Linked DNA regions of Homo sapiens. The protein of the gene in region 1 interacts with the protein of each later gene in a biochemical or structural test. Each region holds a gene or a part of one and is shown in the gene's direction. Other genes may lie near its edges. The genes, in order: NFKBIB, IKBKB, CHUK and DNAJA3.

The links.
Region 2: of the proteins of NFKBIB (region 1) and IKBKB, one has a biochemical effect on the other in vitro, tested with the Homo sapiens proteins (2 studies listed by BioGRID).
Region 3: of the proteins of NFKBIB (region 1) and CHUK, one has a biochemical effect on the other in vitro, tested with the Homo sapiens proteins (2 studies listed by BioGRID).
Region 4: the proteins of NFKBIB (region 1) and DNAJA3 form a complex in vitro, tested with the Homo sapiens proteins (one study listed by BioGRID).

What each region holds. Positions count from the first base shown.
Region 1 is NC_000019.10:38,898,662-38,902,937, forward strand, and holds the start of NFKBIB (NF-kappa-B inhibitor beta), read left to right. Parts: upstream 1-1,307; 5' UTR 1,308-1,371; coding exon 1,372-1,550; intron 1,551-4,276. Other genes in the region: SIRT2 (NAD-dependent protein deacetylase sirtuin-2), read right to left, coding at 845-860. UniProt on the Homo sapiens protein: Inhibits NF-kappa-B by complexing with and trapping it in the cytoplasm.
Region 2 is NC_000008.11:42,305,642-42,309,424, forward strand, and holds part of IKBKB (inhibitor of nuclear factor kappa-B kinase subunit beta), read left to right. Parts: intron 1-701; coding exon 702-791; intron 792-3,259; coding exon 3,260-3,384; intron 3,385-3,783.
Region 3 is NC_000010.11:100,219,350-100,223,132, reverse strand, and holds part of CHUK (inhibitor of nuclear factor kappa-B kinase subunit alpha), read left to right. Parts: intron 1-152; coding exon 153-267; intron 268-951; coding exon 952-1,021; intron 1,022-2,456; coding exon 2,457-2,545; intron 2,546-3,773; coding exon 3,774-3,783.
Region 4 is NC_000016.10:4,449,736-4,453,518, forward strand, and holds part of DNAJA3 (dnaJ homolog subfamily A member 3, mitochondrial), read left to right. Parts: intron 1-664; coding exon 665-762; intron 763-3,783. UniProt on the Homo sapiens protein: Modulates apoptotic signal transduction or effector structures within the mitochondrial matrix. Affect cytochrome C release from the mitochondria and caspase 3 activation, but not caspase 8 activation.

The sequences.
Region 1 (4,276 bases):
GGGGGACAGGGAGAAAGTAGGGGCTTTTGCCCAGGCTGGTCTTGAACTCCTGGGCTCAAGCGATCCAACCACCTTGGCCTCCCAAAGTACTGGGATTACAAGCATGAGCCATTGTTTCTGGCCCTGACTTACTTTCTTTCTTTTTTACTTTTTAGAGAAAGGGTCTCGCTCATGTCACCCAGGTTGGAGTGCAATAGTGCGATCATAGCTCACTGCAGCCTCAAATTCCTGGGCTCAAGCGATCCTCCTCCTCCTACCTAGGGGATTCAGGGCATGAAGGAACACTCAGGAGGAGTTAGGAAGGACACGACAGTGTGTGAGTGTGTGTGCGGGGAGGGTTAGATTTACAAGGCAGAGGGAAGTTTAGAAAGGAAAAGAGAAGGGAAGAGACGCTTTGGCTGGGAGGCAGGTTTAGGAGGGAGGTGCAGTGGTGCAGTGGAGGCGGTAGGTTTAGGAGAGGCGCGGAACAAGGGGAAGCCATAGGAGGGGTCAGCAGGGGTCCCTCAGCATCCTCTGGTTGCCTCTAACAATCAGGTACCCATAGCAAGCGGGACCGGGGCAACTTATGTTCTTTGCAGCGAGGGACCTTAGCAACCAAGGTGCGAGAAACACGCGATCATTGGCAACTTGGCAAGTGGATGTGGTAAACGAACCCTGAACACACTGCGACCCAGAAACCCACCAGCCTAGCGATACAGATCGCTAAGCAACAGCCCTCAGAATCCCACTCCCCGAAGCGCTCCCTACTTCCCGCCCCACCGCGGCCACCCTTGGGCCCCGGGGCCTGCAGCATTCAGCCAGGCCCCGGCGCGGCCCGACCCTCCTACCCGGATCCCCGACTCACGGTCTGGCTCTGCCATGGGCGCGGTGCTGAAGCCCTTGAGGCTGTCACCGACCGCTCTGTCCCGTCACCAACCACTGTGTCCCGTCACCGACTGCTCTGTCCTGTCACCGACTGCTCTGTCCCGTGACGGCACCAGAAATGGGAGTGGCCGTGATAGGGCACAGAACTACAACTCTCAGCAGACATTGCGGCCGCAGACGCGCTTTCGTACAACACCCAGAGCGCCCCAGTTAGGTAAGAAAGCGCGCGAGGACCGGACTACGAGTCCCAGAAGGCGTGGCGTCAGCAGCCATGTTGGTAAAGGGCGCCCGGAAAATGTGGGAACGGCTAGAGAGTTGTAGTCCTCCCGAATACTCTGATTGGTCAGGATGCAGTACGAGGGCGGGGTGTGAGCGATTCAGCATATTATCATTGGGTGAATCAGGGGGCGTGGTGGGGAATTTCCCGCAGGGCGGAAGCTCCAGAACTCCCGGCAAAGCCCAGCTACAGGCGGGCGACTGCGGGGGGCCCCTGAGGCGGCGGGGGCCATGGCTGGGGTCGCGTGCTTGGGAAAAGCTGCCGACGCAGATGAATGGTGCGACAGCGGCCTGGGCTCCCTGGGTCCGGACGCAGCGGCCCCCGGAGGACCTGGGTTGGGCGCGGAGTTGGGCCCGGGGCTGTCGTGGGCTCCCCTCGTCTTCGGCTACGTCACTGAGGATGGGGACACGTGAGTGAACCTTAGGCTGCCAAACGGAGCCCTAGGACCCGGCGTCACATTCCTCATTAATCTCTGATCCCTGAGGCTTCCTAACCTCATACTCCTAAATCTGACTTCCGATGCTGAACTTCCTGACCTCTAACCCCCGAGTCCTAACTTTTAACAAAACCAATCTTCTATCTAGCTATGATCCTAACCCAATCATTTCTTACCTTCTTTTCTTGAACTATGATTCTCAGCTCCTGGAATCCACATTGTATCCACTGATACCCAAACCTGACTCCAGTCCTGAGACTTCTGTTAGAACTGTGGCTTCTCCTGACTTCTAACCTCCAAATATGATCTTTGATTCTTAGTTCCCGATTTGAGCCCTAGAGTTTGATTTCCGAAATTAATACTTGGTCCCTGACTCTAAGATCCTGTCTTCTGAGCAGTGTTCTTCAAATCTTAAATTCAAAGAGAGAGAATGTAAGCTCTTCTATGTTGAATTCCTAATTAAAGTAAAAAAATAGGAAAATTAAAAAAAAGAATGTTAGCTCCATGAGACCAAGGATTCATCTGTTAAACAAATATTCTTTACACATTACCACGTTCCAGGCTCCGTTTAGGTGCTAGTGATAAAGGCAGTGAAGAAAACAAACAAAAACTTAAGCCCTTGTGGAGCATACATTTTAGTGGAGCTAAATAAACAGATTGATAAGACCACAAGGAAGGAAAGAAATGGAAAGACAGGAAGAAACAAAGAAAGACACGCAGAAAGAAAGAAACATAGAAAGTAAGAAAAGGAAATAAAGTCAGAGGTAGTTAAGTACTTTGGAGAAAAATAAAGCAGGAAAATGAGGCAATAGATAAACAAGATAAGAGCATTTCAAGGAGAAGGAACTGCAGTTGCAAAGGCCCAGATGAGGGATTGTACTGGGTTTTTTGTCTGTTGTGTTTACTGCTGTATGCCCAGTGATGCAAGCAGGGCCTGATCCAGGAGGCACTGAATATTGATCTCAACCAGCTTTATAGTCTCGTTAATTTTCATTAAATTTCATTAATTAATTTTGGTTTCATTAATTTTTTTTTACTTTCTATTCAATTGGTCTCTGTTCTGACTTTTTTTTTTGAAACGAAGTCTCACTCTGTCGCCCAGGCTGGAGTGCAGTGGCATGATCATGGCTTACTATAGCCACAACCTCCTGGCTCAAGTGATCCTTGCACCTCAGCCTCCTGAGTAGCTGGGACCACAGGCACATGCCACCATGCCTGGCAAATTTTTAAATTTTTTTGTCCCCCTATGTTCTCAAACTCTTTTTTTTTTTTTGAGACAGAGTCTTGTTCTGTCACCCAGGCTGGAGTATAGTGGCACTATCTCTGCTCGCTGAAACCTCTGACTCCTGGGTTTAAGCAGTTCTACTGCCTCAGCCTCCCAAATTTGGGATTACAGGCACGTGCCCCCACACCTGGCTAATTTTTGTATTTTTAGTAGCAACAGCAGTTTCACCATGTTGGCCAGGCTGGTCTCAAACTCCTGACCTCAGGTGATCCACCCGCTGTGGCCTCTCAGAGTGCTGGGATTACAGGTGTGAGCCACTGTGTGCAGCTGTGGTCTCAAACTCTTGAGCTCAAGCATTCTTCCCACCTTGGCCTCCCAAAGTGCTGGGTTACAGGGATGAACCACTGTGCCCAGACAGTCTCTGCCTTTTAATTAGTGTTTAGACCATTTACATTTAATTTGATATTGATATGATTGTGTAAATTTATCCCATGTCTATTATATATATTCTACTTACCTATGTTTTCTTTTTCCTCCCTCCTTTTTGCCTTTTATTGGGTATAGTTTTTGTTACTTTTTTTTCAATCCTGCTCCTTCTGTATAGTGTTTTTCATTTTATTTCTTTTTTTTTTTTTGAGATGGAGTCTCGCTCTGTCACCCAGGCTGGAGTGCAGTGGTGCAATCTCGGCTCACTGCAAGCTCCGCCTCCCAGGTTCATGCCATTCTCCTGCCTCAGCCTCCCGAGTAGCTGGGACTACAGGCACCTGCCACTTCGCCTGGCTAATTTTTTTTGTATTTTTAGTAGAGACGGGGTTTCACCGTGGTCTTGATCTCCTGACCTTGTGATCCGCCCGCCTCGGCTTCCCAAAGTGCTGGGATTACAGGCGTGAGCCACCGCGCCCGGCCTCATTTTATTTCTTTTGTTTGCTTATTAGATATTCCTCTTTTTGTTATGTTAGTGGTTGCTTTAAGGTGGGGGTTGGCAAACTATGGCCTCCAGGCAAAATCTAGCCAGCCATCTGCTTTTGTATGGTTGTGAGCTAAGAATGGTCTTTACATTTTTAAACAGTTTCTAAAAATCAAAAGAATAATAATATTATATGGCTTTTGTATGGTTGTGAGCTAAGAATGGTCTTTACATTTTTAAACAGTTTCTAAAAATCAAAAGAATAATAATATTATATGGCAAGTGAAAGTGTATGAAATTCATATTTCAAGCTCCATAAATAAAGTTCTTTTGGAACGCAAGCAAGCTCACTCATTTACATATTGTCAGTGGCTGCTTTTGCACTGACACAGCAGAGTCGAGTAGTCAAAAGAAACTGTATGGCTGCTGGGCTCAGTGGCTCATGCCTGTAATCCCAGCACTTTGGGAGCCAAGGCGGACAGATCACAAGGTCAGGAGATCGAGACCATCCTGGCTAACATGGTGAAACCTTGTCTCTACTAAAAATACAAAAAGTTAGCTGGCAGT
Region 2 (3,783 bases), on another chromosome or scaffold:
TTGTGGATGTGGCTGGGAAGAGGCACTGGGAGCTGGCCTCTGCTGCCAAGCCTGGTCCAGCCTATAGTTTCCCCAGAGCTCTTTGTGGCCTCCTCAGTGGCCACCCGGCTCAGACGTGGTGTTGACTGCCCCACAAGCTTGACATTGTGGTCTTTACCCACCCACTCTATGTGTTCAGCTGGGGTGGTGAGCACAGGCTCAGCTGAGTGGAATACAGTGAATGAGTTCTTAGATCACCTAATCCCTTCCCATACAGCTGCCCTTAGCACCTAGGCCTGGCCTGTGACTACCACAGGGCTCGCCCTTGTTCCAGTTCACCCTCACTCCTGTCAGTGGTGCTCAGATTTGAGAACTGAGGGCATTTACTGAGAAGAGGCTGGCCCGGTCCTTCCTGTTTCAAGTCTGGGTTTAGCTGTCTTGAGGGCTGGTGCCTGTTCTGTTCATTCAGCTTCCCTCTGATGATGCGTGGCAGAGTGTGGGAGGACACGTGCCTAGCATTTTTACAATATGCCTTTTCTTTTAGCCCTGAATCTACCGTGTCGAGGGCATTCTTTTGTGTATCTGGTGGCTCTTAGGAGTTTGGGATCTAATAGTACCTGGGAATTCAGAAATACCTCTGCTCTAACACCAGGCAGTCAGAATCCTCGTAGAAGGACATTGTGTTCTTATAACCCTCAGCTTTCTCCTTCCTTTTGTTTTAGTTAATACACAAAATTATTGACCTAGGATATGCCAAGGAGCTGGATCAGGGCAGTCTTTGCACATCATTCGTGGGGACCCTGCAGTACCTGGTAAGAAGTGGGCCTTGCCTGTTTGCCTGTCAGCTCCTCCCTGCTGCTGCATTTGTGGGGCTCCTGTCCTGCCTTGCTCCCAGCACCTGAGTCCCACCGGCTCTCTGAATGTTTTGGAGATGCATGAGGTCACACCCATAACCTGGTCGAGTCAGCATTTTTTGCCACCAGATGCCCTGTGGAGGGATGTGGTCGTCTTCTCTGATGTCCGGAGGGCTCTGCTCATGCGCCTTGCACCATCCCCTAGCCTCTCTGTGCTTCAGTGTCTTCTCTGAAAGGAAAGGGTTTTAAACAGATCCATGCTGGTCTTGAGCGGTCCTCCCACCTCAGCCTCCTGAGCAGCTAGGACTACAGGCAGGAGCCACTGAGCCTGGCCGAGGCCACACTTTCCATGAGGTATTTCAGGGGCCACTGAGTAGGGGTCAGAGCTCTGAGCTCCCCACCCTTTGTTTACGTTATTTGGTCTGAATATTAGGTTTCTGTTTGAGTCACTCATTCATTCAAGCATATTGATGGAGTGTAGTCTGTGTCAGGCACTGTGCTCAGGGCTGGTGATGCAGTGGGGAAAAAAGACAAGCCCTTTTCGGCCTTCAGAGCTTAGGGTTTAGCAGGAAAGCAAGCATTACTGTGATGCTTACACAGATAACTAAGAAATTACAGTTGTGGTGAGTGTTACAAAGCAAGAGTGCAGGGTGTTGCAAGAATATATATTGGGTGGCCTCAGCCTGGTCTGGGACTTGAAGGGTAAGGAGGTGAAAAGGGCTGGAGGTGGGGGACGGCAGGGGGAATTCCGTGCAAAGGGATCACACACAGGAAGACCTGCAGGTGTGGCTGGAACCGAGCACAAAAGGGAAAGAGAGTCTTGAGTTGAAGCTGAGAACAAGGTAGAGCACAGATTATGAAGGGCCTTCAGGGCTGGGCTAAAGTTCTAGACTTTATCTTAAAACCTCTGCAGAGATTGATGGGTTTTAAGTGGGAGAAGGAGCAACTCTTTGGAAAGCCCACTCCTGACACTGTGTGGAGAAGGAATCACACTGAACAGGAGGGAAGAGTGGGTGAGGTAGGGGCAGTGAAGATGTAGAGGGCAATTAGATTCCAGGAGGGCTTAGCACAAATGCCCAGCAAGACTTGTCATAGGTTGCTTGATGATGGCAGTAGCCACCACAATTGGGAGTGACTCAAGGAGTCTGCGGCTTTCAGAGTGGGTCTCACAGAGGGCTGTGATTCAGGCGCCTGTGTCCATATGGCATGTGATTTGGTAGATCCTTCTGGAGTCCTCCTCAGCTCAGCAGCAGTCGAGCAAGGGGGACCCCATGCTCTAACCAGGAGCTGAGTCAAGTCATGTACTCACATGAGCTAAAACGTCTGCCCATAACCAGACATAGAGGTTGACCTACCCATCCCGGAATGTCTTCTCTTGGTTTGGTCTCCCGGGCCCTTCCTTAAGCTTCACATTTCCAACCAGACCATGCACCACCCTGTCTCTGTGCTTTTGCTTGCCCCAGTCATTTCTGTCTCCACCCACCTGCTAAGCCCAGTCTGCACCCCCAGCACCCCGTGCTGCCGCCCCTTCTTCGGTCACCCCAGCGCTCTCTGCCTCAGCAGCAGCCATGCATCACACTTTCCCTGCCTGTTTCTAAATATCCTGGCCCTTTCTGCAACCACATGGTACCTGGTTCAGGGGTTCAACCAGCACTTAATGCGTGTATTTGGTGTGGACAGCCTGGCATCATTTTCCTTTAACATTTGTAGCCTCTCTTCCCATTTCTACACAGTGCCCACGACTGTGTCCTGCCTTAAGCTAGTTTTCAATAAGCGCCTGAAATGCTGCAACCCTTTTTTTTTTTTTCCTTTTTTTTCTTTCTTTCTTTCTTTTTTTTTTTTAGACAGAGTCTCACTCTGTTGCCCAGGCTGGAGTGCAGTGGCATGATCTTGGCTCACTGCAACCTCCACTTCCCAGGTTCAAGCGATTCTTGTGCCTCAGCCTCCTGAATAGCTGGGACTAAAGGTGCACACCACCATGCCCAGCTAATTTTTGTATTTTTAGTAGAGACGGGGTTTCACCATGTTGGCCAGGCTGGTCTCAAACTCCTGACCTCAAGTAATGCGCCTACCTCGGCCTCCCAAAGTGCTGGGATTACACGTGTGAGCCACTGCGTCCAGCCTGCAACCCTCAGTTTTAAAGGAGAGAAGTTAAAGCCTAGCGATGGGTGTGTGATGTACTCTGGCCCTGAATCTTTAGCCCCTCCATCAGTACCTACTGGAGTGAGTGGGACATAGAAAGGTCTTAGAAATGGTAGCATGATATACCCGCTAAACATGCCTGGGGTGCCCTCCTCGCCCTGCATGCATGTGCCAGTGCCCTCTAGGATGAAGCCAGGGGTGAAAGCAGATGGGCTGGCCGCCCCCTCCTGCCGTGGTCCCCCCAGAGAGGAGCAGCTCAGGTGTACCCCCTCCTGTTGCTGCAGGCCCCAGAGCTACTGGAGCAGCAGAAGTACACAGTGACCGTCGACTACTGGAGCTTCGGCACCCTGGCCTTTGAGTGCATCACGGGCTTCCGGCCCTTCCTCCCCAACTGGCAGCCCGTGCAGTGGTGAGTGGGCCCGGGGCACCTGGATGGAGGAGGGAGCCTGTCTGTTCCTTTCTCTTCACGTACCCTGTTTCCCTGGCGCCCCATCACCGGGCCTGGGAGATCTGTGTTGTTTCTCTTCCGAGAGGAAGGCCTGTCAGGACCTAGCACGAGTAGGGGAGTGGTCTGTGCTCCAAGGACCTGTTAATAGATAGAGTAGCTGTTAAGTCTTCATGTGGATTCTGAGCCTTCACATCTTTAAATACAATGCTGTGTCAGTGTCATCTGCTCTGTGTTCAGAAGTAAGACTATTGTATGAATATACGCACTTACACTGAGAATGCTGTGTGTTAGTAAACAAATAAAACACGTGTACACATGACAAGTCAGGAGGAAATATGTGAAAATTTGTTGTTGACAAAT
Region 3 (3,783 bases), on another chromosome or scaffold:
TTTTTAATTATACAAATCAGAAATTAGAATATTATAAATAATACTGATCTTTCCCCCTCTGTTCATCCACCCACAATTAAGTAGCATTTCAAATCCAGTCCCTTTTTATTGGAAATAATTTTTTTTATTGTAATGTTTTTCTTTCTTATTAGGTTGAACCATGCCAATGTTGTAAAGGCCTGTGATGTTCCTGAAGAATTGAATATTTTGATTCATGATGTGCCTCTTCTAGCAATGGAATACTGTTCTGGAGGAGATCTCCGAAAGGTAGTGTGGATGTTTTGAGATGAGAGAGAGTAAATCACAAACTTTAGCAATGTTTGAATCATGTTAAATATAATAAACTAGAATAAGAATCGGAAAAACTATGGTCTGCTTCCTGTTTTGTAAATAAAGTTTTATTGGAACACAGCCACATTCATTTCTTTACACATTGTCTATGGCTGCTTTCTTATGGCTGCAGAAGTGAGTAGTTTTAACAGAGACTATGTGACTTGCAAAACCTAAAGTATTTACCATATGGTTCCTTACAGAAAATGTTGACTCCTGATTTAGAAAATGCATTTTTGTTGTTGCTGTTTGATGGGACTATAGCAATGGTGTTAGATGAAAATTTCAGTGGTTAAGGTGCTTATAAAAAGTTGTTTTCTGTATTGCAATCTTTTTTTTCTACCTAATTTTAAATGTGCCCATATGACCATTTTTATATATATCCATGAGATTTGTCAGCCTTTTCCAGTTTCAAATGCTTTTTGCCTCTTTTTACTTTTATGAGCCTTATCATGAAATTTACATGCCCTCAGTATGGATTTGGTAATTTTATTCCCTTGTATTTTATTATGACTTATTTTCTCATTTGAATATTCTTTTAGAGTATAGTAATTAATGTGTGGTCACTATTGCAGCCCAGCAATTTGCAGAACAGATTTTTAGATTTCTTTCTTTTTTTAGCTGCTCAACAAACCAGAAAATTGTTGTGGACTTAAAGAAAGCCAGATACTTTCTTTACTAAGTGATATAGGTACGTATCAGTATTAAAATACCATTGTAATGTAATGTCCCTTTGGCCCATAAAAGATCTTTTTGGGAATTCAGGAGAATTGTTGATACACTATACAAAGTCTATAGAATTTCAACATCTATAAGAAGTTATAAAAATCTATTACTATTGATGCTAAATTAAAACTAGGATATTTTGGCTAGGTGCGGTGGCTCACGCCTGTAATCCCAGCACTTTGGGAGGCCAAGGTAGGCGGATCACAAGGTCAGGAGTTCAAGACCAGCCTGGCCAACATAGTGAAACCCCATCTCTACTAAAAATACAAAAATTAGCTGGGCACAATGCCGCATGCCTGTAGTCCCAGCTACTCGGGAGGCTGAGGCAGGAGAATCGCTTGAACCCAGGAGATAGAGGTTGCAGTGAGCCGAGATTGCACCACTGCACTCCAGCTTGGACAACAGAGTGAGACTTTGTCACACACACACAAAAAGAAACTAGGATATTTTATTATTTATTTGTGGCTAAGAGTCCTTTTTTTGTCTAATAGATGTTCCAATAGCTGACAAAAAAATCATGTGAAATGACCTTACTCAATTTCTCTCCCCCCCTACCATTGACATAGTAATTTTGTTTACAGTGGAATTACATCTCCTTGAGGGATGGGTCCTCAAGTCAACTCTTTTTTGTTTGTTTGTTTTGAGACGGAGTCTAGCTCTGTTGCCCAGGCTGGAGTGCAGTGGTGCGATCTCAGCTTACTGTAACCTCTGCCTCCCAGGTTCAAGCGATTCTCCTGCCTCAGCCTCCCGAGTAGCTGGGATTACAGGTGCCCGCCATCACACCTGGCTAATTTTTGTATTTTTAACAGAGACGGGGTTTCACTGTGTTGGCCAGGCTGGTCTCAAACTCCTGACCTCGTGATCTGCCCGCCTCGGCCTCCCAAAGTGCTGGGATTACAAGCGTGAGCCACCGCACCCAGCCAAGTCAACTCTTCAGGGTGAAAAATCTCTGCTTAATCAGAATGACTCCAGAAAAATTCCTAAAATAACCAGTACCTAACCTTTTGGAGGAACCTCAAAAACCAAAAATTTGTTTCCCCATAGATTTTGGTTTTGCCTCTTTTCCAAGGTCATGAGGGCTAAAGTCCAATTGAAATGAGTGATTTAGGTGGGAGAAAGAGGCTTATAAGAGTTTCAGGGATTTTCCCAATTGCTTGTTGCATTTCTATTTGGTGTTAATTCTAATGAGTTAAATGAACATATAGTATAATTTTGTAGTATTTGTTTAATGTTACTTTTTTTTCTGTGAAGAAAACCTGGACACTGTAGTATTAGTTGTGTAGTTACGATGATCCATATAAACTTGAGCATCAGAGTAGATTTGTACAAAATGTGAGGTGAATTTTTCTTTTAACTCAATGATTTCTGTTACTTTAAAGTATATTTTAAACTTTATTTAGGGTCTGGGATTCGATATTTGCATGAAAACAAAATTATACATCGAGATCTAAAACCTGAAAACATAGTTCTTCAGGATGTTGGTGGAAAGGTAGGTGAAACCTGAAGTAATGTTTCATGCCTATTGAATATAGTCTCTCTGATATAGTTAGTCCTTGAGCTTTGGTGTCTTTGCTGTATGCCCATAACAGTCTTACTTTTTCCATTTCAGACCTCACCACACTGAACTGTAGTTTTGTGTTTAGTTTTTTTGTCCCTTCTGCTAAACAGTGGTTCCATCAGAGAAGGAACAGCACCTGCTTTTTTTTTCTTTTTCTTTTTTTTCATTTTTCATACTTAACCCAGCTCCTAGACTTCACCTGTCTTGTTCAAGTCTGTTTTTCCATCATAGTATCTAGCAAAGATACAGGCTGTGAATACATAATATGTTAACACTTATTATTTTATTCTTATGAAGCACATCCAAAACACATACATGCACATCCTGGGTCCACTTTAAGAAAAAAAAGAAAGTATATATATTTTTAAAACTTATTTTCCTTCCCCCAATTTAAATGAGTCATCTGGAGAAGAACCAGAAATTGTGAATTGACTCTTAAAATGTTCATTTCATTGGTAACTTAAGCAGTTTTCTTGTTTCCAGCATCCAAATTTCATTCCAATAAAGACTTAAAGGCCAAGAGTCTGAACCTTGTGTTGAGTTGTGTGTGCCGTCTCTTTAGTTAGTGAAAATAGTTGTTGGCCTCTTGGAGGTGTTGGAACCTTGGTGATGCCTCTTCTCTTAGGAACCTTTCACGTATGCTTGGCACCAAATATCTCTGCTTTTTTTTTTTTTAATCCAAAGACTTCAGGACATTCCTGAAGTTAGATCTAAGTATTTACTCACATTTAATCTACTATAAGGAGGTATGATGCTTCTTCAAGTTTGGAAGTCACCCTTGCCTTTACTTTCCAGTTTAATGGATTGAGCTTATTTTGAATATAGTAAAATAAAAATTAATAGCCCACCTGTATTCAATTTTTACCATGTACCAAGCACTGTGTTACCTTCTTTACTTTCGTTATTTCATTGGATCCTAATAACAATTCTGTGAAGCAGGGACTGTTAGTCATCCAATTAGATTACTGAGAGAGGTTAAATAACTTGGTAGATCACATGCCTAGTTAAGTGGTGGCACTCAGACTTGAAATATTTTTGTGTTATTACAGAGCCCAAGGTCCTCACCACTACCCTGTCTACAGCCTCGTAAGGATATTGTTGTCTTTCCTTTTTAAATTTCTCTACCATTTAATACTTAATCTGTCTTATTATTTTGCAGATAATACATA
Region 4 (3,783 bases), on another chromosome or scaffold:
GTGCTGTGGGTACCTAGGGCGGGACATGCCTGACTCCCCTCGGGAGCACTCATGCTTTTTGTTAATTAGATAATTTCTTTTTTTTTTTTTGAGATGGTGTCTAGCTCTGTCTCTAGGTGGAGTTCAGTGGTGCAATCTCCACCTCCCAGATTTAAGCAATTCTCCTGCCTCAGCCTCCCAAGTAGCTGGGACTATAGGCATGTGCCGCCACGCCCAGCTAATTTTTGTATTTTCAGTAGAGACGGGGTTTCACCTTGTTGGCCAGGATGGTCTCTATCTCCTGACCTTGTGATCCGCCCACCTTGGCCTCCCAAAATGCTGGGATTACAGGCATGAGCCACTGCGCCTGGCCTAATTAGATAATTTCTTACTTGCTTCACATACACACTGGTAAAATCTGTTTCCCCTCCTGTAAACTGTATTTAGCATAGCCACAGTGACACTTGTTTAAATGACTTAGTGTAGGGTGTTTTAGGAGCTTTTCTGTACAGAAGCTTTGAGGGCATGGTCCTTAGGTTCTCACCGCTGCACTGGCTCAGGGTGTCCGCCCCTGCCAAGGTTGGGTCCCTCTCTTCCCATGTGCTGCGAGGGTGCTGGCTGCCTGTGAGTTCTTTCCAAAGCTTCCCGGCGGAAGCCTTGGCTGCTGACTCTGCTCGGTCCACAGGAGGCTAACGAGCCGGCAGCAGAGCCTGATCCTGAGCTACGCCGAGGACGAGACAGATGTGGAGGGGACGGTGAACGGCGTCACCCTCACCAGCTCTGGTAAGGAGTCTGAAGACTACATGGTGACACGTGGGGGCCTCAGAGCCCCCCAGGGTATGGACAATTCAGGGCAGCATGTTGGGGTTTCCACTTCGGGTTCTTCATGAAGCCTTTAAAATGTGCAGTTGAAAGAGGGGGGCTGTGGGCGGGGACAGCGGGCAGGGAGCCGCAGCCCCCAGTCCAAGCTTCGCCTCCTCTCTCTGTGTGTGTTTCTGTGCTGAGGTGAGAGCACCAGGGCACTTCCTGCAGGCAGCTCTGCGTGTCTCAGACCCAGTGTTCTGAGTTCTATTCTTGGTTCTGCCACTTGCCCTGTGACCTCGGACAAATCCTTCCCTGAGAGCTCCTGGCAAAAGCGTAAGGAGAGAGCATGGATTGGAAGGATTTGTGCACTTCCCACCTGGGACACTCCGCCAGGATTTCAGAGTGTCTTAAAACAACAGCAGCCACAGCAGTGGAGCCGCAGTCAGCAGACTCCGTCCGCCGCTTTAGAGCAGGACTCCCTCCAAGTTATCTAGCCGTGAACAGATGCACCATTTACCCTGAGCTCAGACATCGTGCTAGCGAGTGGCTGTGTTAGGGATCTGTCACCAGAACACCTGCTGTGGGCGCTGAGACAATGGCACCCCAGCTGCAGCCCCTCTTCCCATGGGGTCTGGGGCCTCTTTCCTGGGACTCCTGGCTCAGGGCAGGGCAGGCTGTGCCCAGGGGTCCTTGGTTCAGGCGGCATGTATTTCCTCCTCATTGCATCATTTTGTTTTTGTTTGGATCCTGGGTGGAGTTCTCAGAACTTGAGCAGCCTTAGATTAGTGCATGGTAATTCGTAGCAGGTGTTTGGAGCTGGGGGCCGATTTTCCAATAAAGTGGAGGATTTGGAGCTCCAGGGGCAGGGGCAGGGGCTGGGATGGAAGTCCCTGGAATTTCACTGAGCTCCTGTTGCTCCCAGGGGACTGGAATTCCTCTGTTAAAAAGCAGCTGCCGGCCGGGCGCAGTGGCTCTTGCCTGTAATCCCAGCACTTTGGGAGGCAGGGGCAGGTGGATCACTTGAAGTCAGGAGTTTGAGACCAGCCTGGACAGCATGGCGAAACCCCATCCCTACTAAAAATACAAAAATTAGCTGGGTATGGTGGTGCATGCCTGTAATCTCAGCTACTCAGGACGCTGAGGCAGGAGAATCGCTTGAACCCAGGAGGCAGAGGATGCAGTGAGCCAAGACCACACCACTGCACTCCAGCTTGGGTGACAGTGAGACTCTCTGAAAAAAAAAAAAAAAAAAAAAAAAAGGGCCTGGCGCGGTGGCTCACGCCTGTAATCCTAGCACTTTGGGACGCCGAGGAGGGTGGATCACGAGGTCAGGAGTTTGAGACCAGCCTGACCAACATGGTGAAACCCTGTCTCTACTAAAAAAAAAAAAAAAATACAAAAACTAGCGGGGCATGGTGGTGGGCATCCATAATCCCAGCTACTCTGGAGGCTGAGGCAGGATAATTGCTTGAATCCAGGAGGCAGAGGGTGCAGTGAGCCAAGATTGCACCACTGCACTACAGCCTGGGTGACATAGCGAGACTCTGTCTCAAAAAAACAACAACAAAAAAGCAGCTGCCACAAAACTCTGTAGCCCAACCAGGTTCCAAATGTCACTTATTTTAATGGTTTGGTACATATACTGTGTATATGTATACTATCTTTTGTTCTTGTTGTATCTCTTGAACTAAAATAGAAGTGGTAATAGAGTAGCTATTCCCCGGAACTCTAATCAGTGCACCTGTGGCTTCTCCTTCCTCAAACCCTACAATCACATAACATGCGAGATTGGTTCCATAGACAGCTGTCCTTCCCTCCTCCCGCCCATCAGGGTAGCTTGAGGTGTGCTACGGCCGGGCCCTGGGTGGGTTCGTGGGTGTTGCTTACTCTGTTGGAGGTTGGGTATTACTGGTCACCAGTTGATGTTTTGACCCTCTCTCTGATACTGTAAGTTGAAAGTTGATTCCGCCACCCACTGAGATCCTTTGTCACTTCCATGGTTACTTGTCCTGATCACTCAGCCTCACTCAGCTGTTCCCTCACTCAGCCAGGATGTCTTCTCCTGTGTGCAAGACACTGTCAGCTCTTCCTTTTAAAGATCTTGGTGAGGCCGGATGCAGCGGCTCACACCTATAATCCCAGCACTTTGGGCGGCTAATGCAGGAAGATCACTTGAACCCAGGAGTTCGAGACCAGCCTGGGCAATATAGCGAGACTCTGTCTCTACAAAAAATTTCAAAACTAGCCAGGTGCAAAGTAGTATGCACCTCTATCACCAGCTACTTGGGAAGCTGAGATGAGAAGATCACTTGAGCCTTAGTACTCAAGGCTGCGGTGAGTCATGACAGCGACACTGTACTCCAGCCTGGGTGCCAGGGCAAGACTCTGTCCCTAAGCATACACCGTCACATGTCAGTCTGCTGCCTGTGGGTGGTTAAGTCTCTCATTATACTGTGAAGACAGTTAGTTTTGCATCCACATATGACAGTATTACAGGACATATAATTCTCATGTCCTAAGAACTTAAGCAACAGTGGGATTTATTTATTTATTTGAGGCAGAGTCTTGCTCTGTGGCCCAGCCTGGAGTGCAGTGGTGCAGTCATAGCTCACGGCAGCCTCAAACTCCTGGACTCAAGTGATCCTCCCACCTTGGCCTCCCAGAGTGTTGGAATTACAGACATGAGCCACTGTGCCTGACCAGCATAGTTTTTGATGCGTTTAGTATCTTAATGTAGCTGCTGAAAACCTTAAGAGCTGACCCCGGTCTCCCAGAAAGACCATGGTGTGCTTAGAGACTCAGCACTTGCAGGGATAAACAGGTCCATCTTCTGGCGAACAGAGAGGGAACTGGGGGGGCTTGCAATTACTATGTGACTTTTTGAGTGAGAGACACAGTATGGCTCCTTGTTGTTCTTTTTTTTTTTTTCTTTTTTTGGAGACGGAGTCTCACTCTGTCACCCGGGCCGGAGTGCAGTGGCGTGATCTCGGCTCACTGCAA